4 linked regions of the Homo sapiens genome follow. The protein of the gene in region 4 purifies or fractionates together with the protein of the main gene of each other region. This does not show direct contact. Each region holds a gene or a part of one and is shown on either strand. Other genes may lie near its edges.

Region 1 (3,542 bases), on a different chromosome or scaffold from region 4:
TACCACTGTCTGAGTGCTGTACAATTTCAGAGCACCGTTCCTTACACAGCTTCAGTTTCTGACTTGGGAATTATTCTTAGTTATGATGATGGTGAGGCTTTAGCAGGAACGGGGACTAGGGAGGCCCCCTCAGGAATTGCTGCTCCAGCTCACAGATGGTTTTGCCTGGCAGGAGCTGATGGGAACTTGGTATTGTTACAAGGTGAAACAACATAGTTGACATTAATGTCTCTTGATGTGGATAAGACACATTGTTCAACTCACATCCCTCTTGTCTGTCTATACAGCCCTGTTCATTTAAGCCCACCTGGCCTCTTTTTGGTGGCATGCTTATAAAAAGTAGGCAGTGATCAGTGGCTTGAGATTAAGGAAATGATAAGCCGTGTCTTTGAAAGCAGATGCTCCTATTTATAACTCAGACATCCTATACTTTTACATTCCATGAGGTGGGGAACAGGACATGACTGACCACAGGGAAATGGTGGCAGGGCAGGTGCCTCGCCCGTTAGAAGCCTGCCCTCCCTCCAGGCTGGGAAATGCTTATTGTTAGGCAAATACTGAGGCATGTTGTGGGGTACCTGCAGCTACAGGATAATGTTAATTCAGCTTTTTGTGTATTAAGTGCCTACTCTGTGGTGCTTATGTGCTGAGGATGCAAGACAAGGATCTCTGCCCTCATGGCTCACATTGTTGAGGGGTGGGGATGTCATCGTTACCTAAAGCTTAAGGGGGAAAGAGCCTTGTTCAGTGTACCTGCAGGCACATCTGCATGAGCTATGGCAGGAAACTGAAGAGAAAGCTGGGGGCTTGTGCCAGGCTCCACTCCCAGGCCTTTTGGGGTGTGTCTTCTCTTGTGTCTGCCATTGGGTGGAATTGGATTGCACGTGCACGCAGTCCGCTCCTCTGCACAGCCAAGGCTTTCTGGGGCCCCGAAATGAAACCTTACAGTACCTTGGAAGTCCAGCCTGGGTAGCTTTGTCCAGCCTGTCCAACCCGGGTACCCGAGGATCTGCTGTGACCCAGAAACATGACTTAGGTTATAGCCCAGCCCCCATTTTACTCACAAGGAACCTGAAGCTTGAGAGCTTGAGTGACCGGTGTGAACAGCAGGCCTGGGATTCGGATCCCTGTCAGCCCAAGTCATGTGCTGGACCCCACTCACTGTGTTTTCCAGAACACAGTGAGCAGAGGGCCCCGTAAATACAGGATCTTGTCCCATTTCCCCTTGCAGCAGATCCACCAGTGAGGGTGCGGTGTGGAATTCCAGGGGATGCAACTGCAAGATCACCCATATTGGGACCAGCTAGAGCCATATGCTATTTCCAGACCTAGGCTTTCACAGATTCATGTTTCAGTGGAAGGAAAGGGAGGTTTAATGGTTATGGAGCACCAGCCACATGCTATGCACTCTGTTAGAACGGTCCTCACCACAGCCTGACAAGGTAGGTTCAACTTTAGGCTGGAGGCAGCATAGTACAAGAAAATAGAGTTAGGAGCCAGACTGCTTTAGGATAACAGTACCTCTGCATAAGGTCGTAATGAGGGTTAAGTAATATCTGTCAAGTGCATCCAGTAGCATCTGGCACATAGTGATGTAAACATTAACTATTGTTATTATCACCATTTTCCAAAAGTGTGCAAAGGGGTGTATGGTTAGTCCCTGTCTAGCTACTAAGTGGAGGAATTGGGTTTTCTGACTCCAGAGCAAACCGTTTTTCTCCACTCCGTACTGCCTGCCGATGGCTGCTTTGGAGTTTGTCTGGCTCTGGGTTGTGCCTTGAACGCACAACTTACCTAATAGAGCCTGGGGCTCTTTTCTCCATTAAAGACAAGCTCACTGTGAGCTGGGCACCATGTGTTGCCAGAGCCTCATGCTATATGTCAGGCCCGAATTCCTTGTTTGTGCCAGTGGAACCCCCTGTGACTGGAGGGTTCCTGCCCTCTTCCAGGCTTGGAAGAAGAGAGACAGGGCTGGGGACAGAGCATATGAGCTCTGTGAGAGCAGGGACCTTGTCTGTTTGGTTCCCTCTGAGTACCCCACACCTTGCACTGGCCGCCTGGCACTTAGCGCCAGCTACATAAACACTGAGTGAGAGCTGAGAGGCGGCTGCCTGCTCCACAGAACATGGTCTCTGCAGTTGGGCACATCTGGATTTGAGTCCTGTCTGCCACTCAGCATGTGACTGTCAGTGAGGCGGCTAATTCCCTTGGTCTCAGTTTTCCTGTTCCGTCGCATGAGGATAACATTTTATAGAGATGGGGAGTAGGGGTGAAATTTGTAATGTACTTACTCCAGTGCTTGGCACACAGTAGCTGTGGTTGTTGCATGTCTTATTCTGCATACCACAGAATAAGGGACACAAATAGAAGCCATCATCCCTGTCCTCTAATCTGGGAGGGGGAGGCAAGATGCGTCCAAAAAGCCAAGTGCAGCAGGAATGAAGTAGTACTAGAAAAGACTTAGCCAGGGACCCATGGGTGCTGTGGTCTGCCCATCCCTGCAGGCCTGGCTTGCATTTCCCCCTCCTCCACGCAGCCCTGCAGACCACTCCAGCCTGCAGTCGGCTTGGGGGCTGGGCATGAAGCCTGGGAAGAGTGTGCTCAGGCAGAGAGGACAGGGTGGGGTATGGTCAAGGGGACTGGCACAAAAGCAGAGGTCAGGGGGTGTGGTCACACAAGCAGTAGATGCGAGCCCATGGGGTGCCTCAGTCTCAGGAGTGAGTTGTGGAGTGCCTGAGTTGCTAAGCTAAGGAGTTTGCATTAGATCTGGGACAGTGTGGAGCCAGTGAAATTTTTGACAGGGCAGGTAGAAATTCGAGGAGGCTGGCAGAGCGGTGGTATTTTAGGAAGAGCCCTCTGGCTGTGCATGCAGGAGGCCTGGGAGGTGAAAGAGATGGGAGAGAGGCCTCCACAAGCATCAGCTTGTGAGCTTATGAGGGTCCTGGCCACTGTGCAGCTGTGGGTGTGGAAAGGAAGGGATGGTGGAAGGAGATAAAGGCAGAGTGACACGGAATGATTTACCACCTCTGGAGCTGAGGGGGTCTGCCCCAGAGCTGTCCCATGTAGGTGTTCTGATTGGACAGTTTATCATTGACACACAGCTATTTCAGGTCAGTCTAAATCCTAGATAGTGGTGTCTGCAAAGCCTTGAGAGCCTGTTAACAACTGAATGGGGATTTCAGTCTGGGTAGCCCAGTGATCCATCCAGCCAGTGACTCTGTGACTGCAGGTGGCACCAAGTTCAGCCTGATGCACACAGCATTAGGTTCTGGTGCCTAAGACACCAGTCTGCTGAGGGAGATGGTGGGGTGGCGGGCTCTGCATGGCAGCTGTAGGAATAACAGAAGCTAGTTTTTTTTTGTTTGTTTGTTTGAGACAGAGTCTCGCTCTGCCACCTAGGCTGGAGTACAGTGGCACGATCTCGACTCCCTGCAACCTCCGTCTCCTAGACTCAGGGAATTCTCTTGCCTCAGCCTCCCAAGTAGCTGGGACTACAGGTGCGTACCACCATGCCTAGCTAATTTTTTGTATTTTTAGTAGAG
Region 2 (3,049 bases), on a different chromosome or scaffold from region 4:
CAGATATTGTGGATGAAGCCATCTATTACTTCAAGGCCAATGTCTTCTTCAAAAACTATGAAATTAAGGTAAATTACGGAGCTTTTAATATTTAACTTAGTTTTCTCATAGGGATAATACCAACCTTGCTATCCAGATTGCTGTGAGGAGAAAATAAAATGAAATCAGCATGTAATTTTTAAATTCGAGAGCAGTGCTTAATGTTAGCTTTTGTATAAATATTAGTTTCTTTTTTTTTCCTCCAAATTCTATACCAGGGGTTGGCAAACTCTAACCTGAGGGCCACATTTGGCCCACTGCCCCTTTTTATGAATAAACCTTTATTGGAACACAGCCACAACCATTTGTTTCTATATTATCTATAGTTACTTTCACACCAAAACAGCAGAATTGAGTAGTTGTGACAAAGACTGTATGGCCCACAAAACCTAAAAATACTGCCTGCCTTTTACAGAGAAAGTTTGCCAACCCCTTGCTAGAAGTATCTTTATTTATTCAACATTAGTTAAGCAGCACCTACTATGTGCCAGCCTTTTGTTTTGTTTTGAGACAGGGTCTTGCTCCGTCGCCCAGGCTAGAGTGCAGTGGCACAATCACAGCTCACTATACCGTCAACCTCCTGGGCTCAGACAGTCCTCCTGCCTCAGCCTCCCAGGTAGCTGGAACTACAGGCATGCACCACCACACCTGGCTAATTTTTTGTATTTTTAGTAGAGACGGGGTTTCACAATGTTAGGCAGGATGGTGTCTCGATCTCCTGACCTCATGATCCGCTCACCTCAGCCTCTCAGTGTGCTGGGATTACAGGCGTGAGCCACCGCTCCCGGCCCTAAAATGGAATTTCAGCCCCTCCTTGCCAAACTCTGAACTTCTGGAATCAAACAGGTTGTGAATTATTTATTTGTAGACTCTTGGTGTACAAATTGTAGTCTAAACATTCTGTGATGGTAATAGAATGTTTTCTATATCTCATGTGTGGGTTAAGTTTGTAACAGTTATAAATGTTACAATTCTCTGGGCACATTGCTTGAGTTCAGGAGTTCGAGACCAGCCTGGGCAACATGGCGAACCCCCGTCTCTACAAAAAATAGAAAAATTAGTGCATGGTGGCTCACGCCTGTAATCCCAACACTTGGGAGGCTGAGGCGGGTGGATCACATGATGCCAGGAGTTTGAGACCAGCCTGGCCAACAAAGCGAAACCCCATCTCTACCAAAAATACAAAAATTAGCCAGGTGTAGTAGTGCATGCCTGTAATCCCAGCTACTCGGGAGGCTGAAGCACAAGAATTGCTTGAACCCAGGAGGTGATGGTTGCAGTGAGCCGAGATCACACCACTGCACCCAGCCTGGGCGACAGAGCAAGACTGTCTCAAAAAAAAAACAAAAAACTCTGCCACATTTCATTTGTTCCCAGATACTATATTGTCTTAAAAATAGGGAAATGTGGCTGGGCGCAGTGCCTCTGCCCGTAATTTGGGAGGCCAAGGCGGGCGGATCACCTGAGGTCGGGAGCTTGAGACCAGCCTGACCAACATGGGGAAACCCCGTCTCTACTAAAAATACAAAATTAACTGGGCGTGGTGGTGCGTGCCTGTAATCCCAGCTACTTGGGAGGCTGAGGCAGGAGAATCACTTGAACCCAGGAGGCAGAGGTTGCGGTGAGCCAATATCACGCCATTGCACTCCAGCCTGGGCAGCAAAAGTGAAACACTCAAAAAAAAAAAAATATATAGGAAAATGGTGTGGTTTGGGGGTAATTTTTTTGTTGTTTTTTTGTTTTGAGACAGAGTCCCGCTCTGTCACCAGGCTGGAGTGCAATGGCGTGATCTCGGCTCAGTGCAACCCTCGACTCCCGGGTTCAAGTGGTTCTCCTGCCTCAGCCTCCCAAGTAGCTGGGATTACAGGCACGCGCCACCACGCCAAGCTAATTTTTGTATTTTTTGGTAGGGACAGGGTTTCACCACGTTGGCCAGGATGGTCTCGATCTCCTGAGCTCGTGATACACCCACCTTGGACTTCCAAAGTGTTGGGATTACAGGTGTGGGCCACCGCACCCGGCCTTTTTTTTTTTTTTTTTAATTCGAGACAGAGTCTTGCTCTGTTGCCCAGGCTGCAGTGCAGTGGTACAGTCTTGACTCATTACAACCTCTGCCTCCTGGCTTCAAGCGATTCTGTGGCCTTAGCCTCCCTAGCAGCTGGGATTACAGGCGCACGCCACCATGACTGGCTAATTTTTGTATTTTTAGTAGAGACGGTGTTTCGCCATGTTGCCCAGGCTGGTCTCAAACTCCTGGGCTCAAGCAATCCACCCACCTCAACCTCCCAAAGTGCTGGGATTACAGGCATAAGCCACTGCACCTGGCCTAAATTTGTGTAAAATTTGACCCAAAGTCCATACCACATTTGATCAACATTCATTTGTCTTCTCCACATTTTCTTTTTGGTTAGGTCAAGACATTGAGATTATGGAGTTCTTTGGGAGCAAGTCAAATGTGAAATAGTTGCTTCCTCCTTTAGAGTAATGACTATTTCTGTTCTCGGCAGAGACCCTGAAGGGAAGGGTTTTTAAAAATTAGCCAACCATATGGAGCAGTTCAGGCTTTCCAGGCAGCTTTGTTACTTCTTCCTATACAGTGAGGGGCTGTTGACACAGATCCTTGGGAACCCTGGGGCAAGGGGAGCCGAGAAAAACAAGAGAGAGCAGCCACTCAGCCGAGCGTGGTGGCTCATGCCTGTAATCCCAGCACTTTGGGAGGCTGAGGTGGACAGATCACTTGAGGTCAGGAGTTCGAGACCAACCTGGCCAACATGGTGAAACCCCGTCTCTACTAAAAATAGAAAAATTAGCCAGGCGTGGTGGCGGGCACCTGTAATCCCAGCTACTCGGGAGGCTGAGGCAGGAGAATTGCTTGAACCTGGGAGGTGGAGGTTGCAGTGAGCTGAGATTGTGCCACTGCACTCCAGCCTGGGCAACAGAGCAAGACTCCGTCTCAAAAAAAAAAAGCAGCTGCACATCTCAGAGTGGGGCTTGTGCCTTCCTCCCAGGG
Region 3 (3,542 bases), on a different chromosome or scaffold from region 4:
TATCTTTCCAGCAGCAGAAAGACCAATGAATAATACATTTCTTTCTGTACAGATTAAAACTCCATACATACGGGCTTCACTATGTACAGAGAAAAGAGGTCACTTTTCAACTAGCAATGGACCTTTATATTACAGGAATGTGAGTCATTTTTTTTTCTTAATCTAAGTATATATACATTCATACATATATGTATATAATTTACCCTGTACCTTTTTATTAGTTTAATATATAAACCTTAGTTTTTTTGTCCATTCTATTACAAAGTGAATAAAAATTGTATGGTTGCACTGAAAGACCATGCATTTCAATTTTGCTTATGTTTCCCAATAGTGCTCAAAATAAAAAACCAAAAATTTATATATATAAAAATATTTCACTACCAAATCCATTAATCCTATCAAATGTAAACCTTTAATAATTTAAAGGACCAATACGTAATCTTAATAAATTGAAGTTAATTCTCATATTTTAATAAAATAAAGGAGTTTTGTACTGATATGTAAATGGTCTTGCAGCTTTCCCATAGGTTCTAGGTAGACTGAACAATCCCTTTCTTACAACAGTATTCCTGACATGCCATCATATGTCACCAGCATATTGATGATTACATTACATCGACTAGCAGTTAATTACTTCCACACCAGTTGGGATTTGTTTGAAATTAAACATAACAACTCATTTTGGTATTATAGGTATTATATCCACAAAAGGCATAACAGGCAGCAAGGATCCACTTTAGAGTTTCTGCTTTTGTTTTTGTTTTCTGTCCTCAAGTCTATCTGCAGGCCCTGTCCCACATAATGTGTGATCTCTGTATGTTCTTAAATGTATTGCCAGTGCCAGAGATACTGAAGACCTCCACTTTAAGTCATGCTCTTAACTTGGGTTATTTACCGCAGCCAGTTGTTAGGAATCTTTCAATTGTGTTCCAGTCATACTCCACATGTGTGGGATGCATTAGGCACAAATGATTACTAAGGGAGTTCTTTGAGAAGAAGCAGGTGCTCACAGATCATGTAAAGAGTTAAGAAAACAGACAGACAATGCTCATAGACGTTCAACTTTACCCCTGCTTTCTGTCACCATGTCTGTACTATTTTCAACACATTAAAAATGACAAACCTCCTATCTAAGGGCTACGTTAGTCACCACATGCCTTAAAGTTTACTAACCATTTAGTTACAATATACATAGAGCAAAATGTGTGTTCCCAAACAGACGTGATGCTGTATTGAATTTATTTCTTTAAATTAATACCATAGTAAATTACCAGCTACAGTGAAGACACAGACAACACTTAACTCCAAATCAAGCTGTGGTTTACAAATAATTATTTAAATAATAATAGCAATAATATTAAATAAAAGTGAAAACCTCACTTCTAGACTTAAGTCAGAGATCCAAGTCAGCCTTATAGGAATTATAAGATAGGCAATTAATGAATTGTTATGCTTTTCTAGAAACGAGAAATACTGTAAGCCTTTCTCTACAATGACTGATTTGAACCTATTTTTTTTTCCCCAGAAGCATGCAGGGACTATTTTCAGATGCTTGATTATGGCAAGAAGAAAGAAAAGTAACGATTTTTGGTGTAATACAAGCAATTTGTAGATTCGAGCATACAATTTTGCATAAAACATTGCAGGTTAAAATAATATTGTAGGTTTCAAGCCATTGCATTACAATTGAATAATTCTCACAATCAGGTTTTGTAAAATTTAAAACTCTAAGTTTTGAAGTGAAGCAATAAAACTAAATTCTTAAACAATGACTTTTACCTTCATACAACACAGAATAGCTATTTTTATTTGGGTTGAAAAAGTTATTTACAACTAACATTGATCGAGTCTTGGTAAAAGTCCGATAACACATGAAGACAAATATTAATTTTCCCTCAGCTTTCTGAAAGATCAATGAACATGTTTGAGGTTAGTGATATTCTTAACAAACAGTGGCAATGCTAGTCTCCTACGGTGGCCAAGCAAGTAGTGCATTCTTTAACCTAATTTGAAATTGAAAGCACCGAAATACAATTTAGATCTATAAAATGGGATTTGTTATTTAATTCTCCACCATTAATGATTAACAATTTAGATGCAGAGACACAGCTAATGAAAGAAAGTTTTGATTGGTGCTATTTACTAGTTCATTTGAGTTGCCTTTTTAAAATCAGTTTTGTTTCCATTGAATCCAAGAACTCTTCATAAAATAGAGAAATATACATATCAAAGGACTTAAGTAAAAGTAGGTTAGAAATAAATAATCTTACAACGACATTTTAAATCCTTTAATGATTTAAAGAAAGGAAGACATATAACACTGAATGCTAAACAGGTCTTTTGACCCTCTCTTGGGAATTTAGATATATATTTTATAGTATATGTATATATATTTTTACATTTCACGTGTAGGCCACAGCTGTCTAAAATATCTCTTCATAGTAGGCTAGAGGGATCTATCAGGAGATAGAATAAAATAAGATCTGAGTATAGTCTCAGTTTATGAGAGTATTTCTTTCTGCTTTGACAATCAGCAGGGATCATAAATTTGAAGCAAATCGTGGCTTTTCTGCGTCTGGGTCTGTGTTTAAGACTGAGGAAGATTCTCTTGGAAGAGCAGCTGCTGGTGGAGGGGGTGCTGGAGGGACTCCTCGGTTCGGGGGGATGGCTCCCGACGACATCTGTCGGAAGAGGGTGACGCGCTGCGGGACAGTGCTCCTGCCCCCTGCCTGAAGGCCCGTTCCGGGGACCGCCGTCACGGGTTGAGGGATGGAGGCCAGGGACTCGCCCACAGTGGGATGAGGTCTGGAAATCAGAGTGGACACCTCATGGGGCAGCGAGGGCTGCGAGGCGGAGAGTGGCCTGACTTCCCGGGTCAGGTTGGTGTTGTGAAGCGCCTGCGTGCTCTTGTGCACTTCATTTTTCGGCGTGGAGCTGCCAGGTGTCTGTGGCTGCGGGGACGGCTGCTGTGGCTGAGTCTGCGGCGGCTGGGACTGCTGTACCTGCTGCTGCGGCTGCTGTTGCATGAGTGACAGCTGGGAGGCGGTGGGGGAGGCATAGTGGAAAGTTCGAGCGGCCAGAGGGCTCTGTACAGGAGGGCTGCAGACCGCGGTGGTGTAGGAGCAGGGTGACAGGATGGCTGATGGCTGGGGGGTCTGTGTGCTGGGACTGGGGGAGTGCAGGTTGCTGTGAGACAGGCTGGTCGCTGTGTACACCGGTGGAGATTGTGTCCTCATGCGGGAGGTCGGGGTCGTAGTAGACGATGTGGAATTCAGGGTTGTCATTTGAGGATAATTGATGGGAGCGATTGCCTGCACCATCTCCCTGTCATGTTTCACAATCTGCTTGAGGATTTCGTTCTCCTGATTGTTGAAAACACCAGTGTTCAGATCCTTCTGGAACTTTTGCAGAAGAATTGAATTTTTCTTTCCTGTCAGCAAAAGAAAGATAGGCACTTAGAAAGCCTACCAATGACTGATGACAACGCCAAGTGAGAGTGGCTCCTGCAAACAGAAGTATAGCTGTGCTTCACAGGAGAGGCT
Region 4 (3,542 bases):
AACCACTGTACCTGGCCGGCATAGCTTAGTCTTAAATGAAAGTCTAGGCCGGGCGTGGTGGCTCACGTGGTGCACGCCTGTAATCCCAGCTACTCTGGAGGCTGAAGCAAGAGAATCGCTTGAACCCAGAGGCAGAGGTTGCAGTGAGCCGAGATCGGGCCATTGCACTCCAGCCTGGGTGACAAGAGGGAAACTCTGTCTAAAAAAAAAAAAAAAAAAAAAGGAAAGTCTAATGGTGCACAGTGCCTTTGCTGTTATATTTTTAAATGCTTAGAGTTAATGACTCTGCACATCTTTTTCGAACCTGAAGTCATTTGTGACTCTCTCTTACACGCCACATCTAGTCAACCAGTAAATTCCAGGTACTCTACCTTCAAAATTTACCCAACTTAAGGCCGGGTGAGGTGGCTCACGTCTGTAATCCTAGCACTTTGGGAGGCCAAGGCAGGTGGATCACCTGAGGTCAGGAGTTCGAGACCAGCCTGGCCAACATGGTGAAACCGTGTCTCTACTAAAAATACAAAAAAAATTAGCCGGGCATGGTGGCGGGTGCCTATAATCACAGCTATTCGGGAGGCTGAGGCAGGAGAATTGCTTCAACCCAGGGGGCAGAGGTTGCAGTGAGCCAAGATTGCGCCACTTCACTCAAGCCTGGGCGAAAGAGCAAAACTCCATCTCAAAAAAACAAAAAACAAAAAAAACAAAATTGGGACTGGGCGTGGTGGCTCACACCTGTAATCCCAGCACTTTGGGAGGCCAAGGCGGGCAGATCATGAGGTCACGAGTTCGAGACCAGCCTGACCAACATGGTGAAAACCTGTCTCTACTAAAAATATAAAAATTAGCCAGGCGTGGTGGTGTGCACCTGTACTCCCAGCTACTTGGGAGGCTGAGGCAGGAGAATCACTTGAACCCTGGAGGCGGAGGTTGCAGTGAGCTGAGGTTGGGCCACTGCACTCTAGCCTAGGCGACACAGTGAGACTCCCTCTTAAAAAAACAAAAAAACAGGTCAGGCGCAGTGGCTCACGTCTGTAATCCCAGCACTTTAGGAAGCCGACGCAGGTGGATCACCTGAGGTCAGGAGTTTGAAACCAGCCTGGCCCACATGGTGAAACCCTGTCTCTACTAAAAATACAAAAATTAGCCAGGTGTGGTGGCAGGTGCCGGTAATCCCAGCTACTCCAGAGGCTGAGGCAGGAGAATCACCTGAACCCTGGAGGTGGAGGGTGCAGTGAGCTGAGACTGTGCCACTGCACTCCAGCCTGGGCAACAGAGTGAGGCTCCATCTCAAAAAAAATGAATAAAATAAAACAAAATAAGAAATTGGTGGGGCACGGTGGCTCATGCCTGTAATCCCAGCACTTTGGGAGGCCGAGGTGGGCAGATCACCTGAGGTCAGGAGTTCAACACTAGGCCAGCCAACATGGAGAAACCCCGTTTCTACTAAAAATACAAAATTAGCCAGGCATGGTGGCGCATGCCTGTAATCCCAGCTACTCGGGAGGCTGAGGCAGAATTGCTTGAACCCGGGAGGCAGAGGTTGCGGTGAACTGAGATAGCCCCATTGCAGTCCAGCCTGGGCAATAAGAGCAAAACTCCGTCTCAAAAAAATTAAAAAAAAATTTACCCAGCTTGTTCCCACCATCCTCATTGGCCCCTGCCTGGTTGGGCTACCACTGTCTGTCCCCTGGATGGTTGCTGTCACCATCTAAATCACCTCTCTACTTTGGTTCTCGATCCCAGATGTGTTCTCAATACAGCTGCTTAGAAGGCCCTTTTCAAACAATTCAGACTTCTGATCTATTACTGTTCTGCTCAGAATTTCCAGGGCTGTCCCATTTGAATTAAGACTGAGTCCTTTCCTCGGCCTACAGAGCCCTACTCTCCTCCCAACCCCCACCTCATCTCTCTTCTGTTCCTGGCTGTTTCTCGAATATACTGAGCCCACCCCAACCTCTGAGCCTTCGCTTAGTTGCCTCCTTCATTTCCTTCCAGTCTCTGTCTAGTGTCACCTCCTCAGGGACACCTTTTTTTTTTTTTTTTTTGAGATGGTATCTCACTCCATCGCCCAGGCTGGAGTGCAATGGTGTGATCTCAGCTCACTGCAACCTCTGCCTCCTGGGTTCAAGCGATTCTCCCCGCTCAGCTTCCCGAGTAGCTGGGATTACAGGTGTGCGCCATCATGCCTAGCTAATTGTTGTGTTTTTGTAGAGATGGGTTTTCACCATGTTGGCCAGGCTGGTCTCGAATTCCTGACCTCAGGTGATCTGCCCCCTGGGCCTCCCAAAGTGCTGGGATTACAGGTGTGAGCCACTGCGCCCGGCCAGGACACCTCCTTTGATCACTTTATCTAAGGCACACTCAGGCACTGCATGGTTTTTTTCCCTCTCAACACTGTCAGCCCTGACATCGTATAATATGGATTTTTAAATTGTGTCTCCCTGGCTGGAATGAAAGTCCATGACCATGAGCTGGGACATTATTCCATTTACTAGTTTCTTTGGGGGCTGTTTCTTTACTTGTAAAATGGGCATTTCTGGGTTCAAGTTCCTTCTGACCAGGATGTTCTGGGGATATGAATTTCTGCTGTCTCGTGGCAGACCTGAATCACAAATATTTTTTCCCAGATATGGAACTGTATTGCAGGTGGGCTTTGCATGTTTCCAGGACCCCTGAGACTTTTCTTTTCTTTTCTTTTTTTTTTTTTTTTTTGAGACGGAGTTTTGCTCTTGTCGCTCAGGCTGGAGCGTAATGGCGCGATCTCAGCTCAGTGCAACCTCTACCTACCGGTTTCAAGCGATTCTCCTGCCTCAGCCTCCCGAGTAGCTGGGATTACAGGCATGCGCCAGCACGCCCGGCTAATTTTGTATTTCTAGTAGACACGGGGTTTCAGCATTTTGGTCAGGCTGGTCTCAAACTTCTGACCTCAGGTGATCCGCCCACCTCGGCTCCCAAAGTGCTGAGGATTACAGGCAGAGACTTCTTCACCACTAGTTTCCCACTATGGGAGTCTGTATCCTTACCACCGAAGATAAGGTTGCATCATAGTCTGGCAATATTTTTTTTATCTTTAGACACAGTTCAATGAGAGGTATTCGAAGCAGCAAAAATGAATCACATTCCAACTACTGACTTTTATTAAAAAGAGTACTATTAGATGAAAATAGTTTTCACACTATTATATAAAAAGACCCATTTTACTTACCCTAAGGCTAAGATCAATTAACAGAACCCCTGGGATAACAGCCCAGGCACCAAATCTGGCACCTCAGAGTCGTCCTTGACTTCCCTAAACCGCTTTCCCCCATCTCAGATTCTGAGAATTTGGTTTCTGTCAAGATGTGCCTCTCCAGCCAGGCCTCTCCTGCCAGGACGGTGGCCACAGGGCCATCTCCCTCTCCTGGCGCCCCCAACTGCCTGGCCAAGGTGACTGCTACACACGTGGGGTCGCAGAATCCCTCGAGTCACAACGTCTTCAACGTCTTGTCAGTCCCGTGATCGCACTAAACGTATTTAAAGCCCCCTACTCCTTTAAGAGGGTC

The links.
Region 1: the proteins of ARPC5L (region 4) and CAPZB purify together in Homo sapiens (co-immunoprecipitation; 3 studies listed by BioGRID and IntAct, with this or other methods). This does not show direct contact.
Region 2: the proteins of ARPC5L (region 4) and ARPC3 purify together in Homo sapiens (affinity purification with mass spectrometry; 9 studies listed by BioGRID and IntAct, with this or other methods). This does not show direct contact.
Region 3: the proteins of ARPC5L (region 4) and HCN1 purify together in Homo sapiens (co-immunoprecipitation; one large-scale study listed by IntAct). This does not show direct contact.

The regions. Positions count from the first base shown.
Region 1 is NC_000001.11:19,479,040-19,482,581, reverse strand, and holds part of CAPZB (F-actin-capping protein subunit beta), read left to right. Parts: intron 1-3,542. UniProt on the Homo sapiens protein: F-actin-capping proteins bind in a Ca(2+)-independent manner to the fast growing ends of actin filaments (barbed end) thereby blocking the exchange of subunits at these ends.
Region 2 is NC_000012.12:110,437,331-110,440,379, reverse strand, and holds part of ARPC3 (actin-related protein 2/3 complex subunit 3), read left to right. Parts: coding exon 1-68; intron 69-3,049. UniProt on the Homo sapiens protein: Component of the Arp2/3 complex, a multiprotein complex that mediates actin polymerization upon stimulation by nucleation-promoting factor (NPF).
Region 3 is NC_000005.10:45,259,381-45,262,922, forward strand, and holds part of HCN1 (potassium/sodium hyperpolarization-activated cyclic nucleotide-gated channel 1), read right to left. Parts: intron 3,431-3,542; coding exon 2,541-3,430; 3' UTR 1-2,540. UniProt on the Homo sapiens protein: Hyperpolarization-activated ion channel that are permeable to sodium and potassium ions. Displays lower selectivity for K(+) over Na(+) ions.
Region 4 is NC_000009.12:124,865,115-124,868,656, forward strand, and holds part of ARPC5L (actin-related protein 2/3 complex subunit 5-like protein), read left to right. Parts: intron 1-3,313; 5' UTR 3,314-3,542. UniProt on the Homo sapiens protein: May function as component of the Arp2/3 complex which is involved in regulation of actin polymerization and together with an activating nucleation-promoting factor (NPF) mediates the formation of branched actin networks.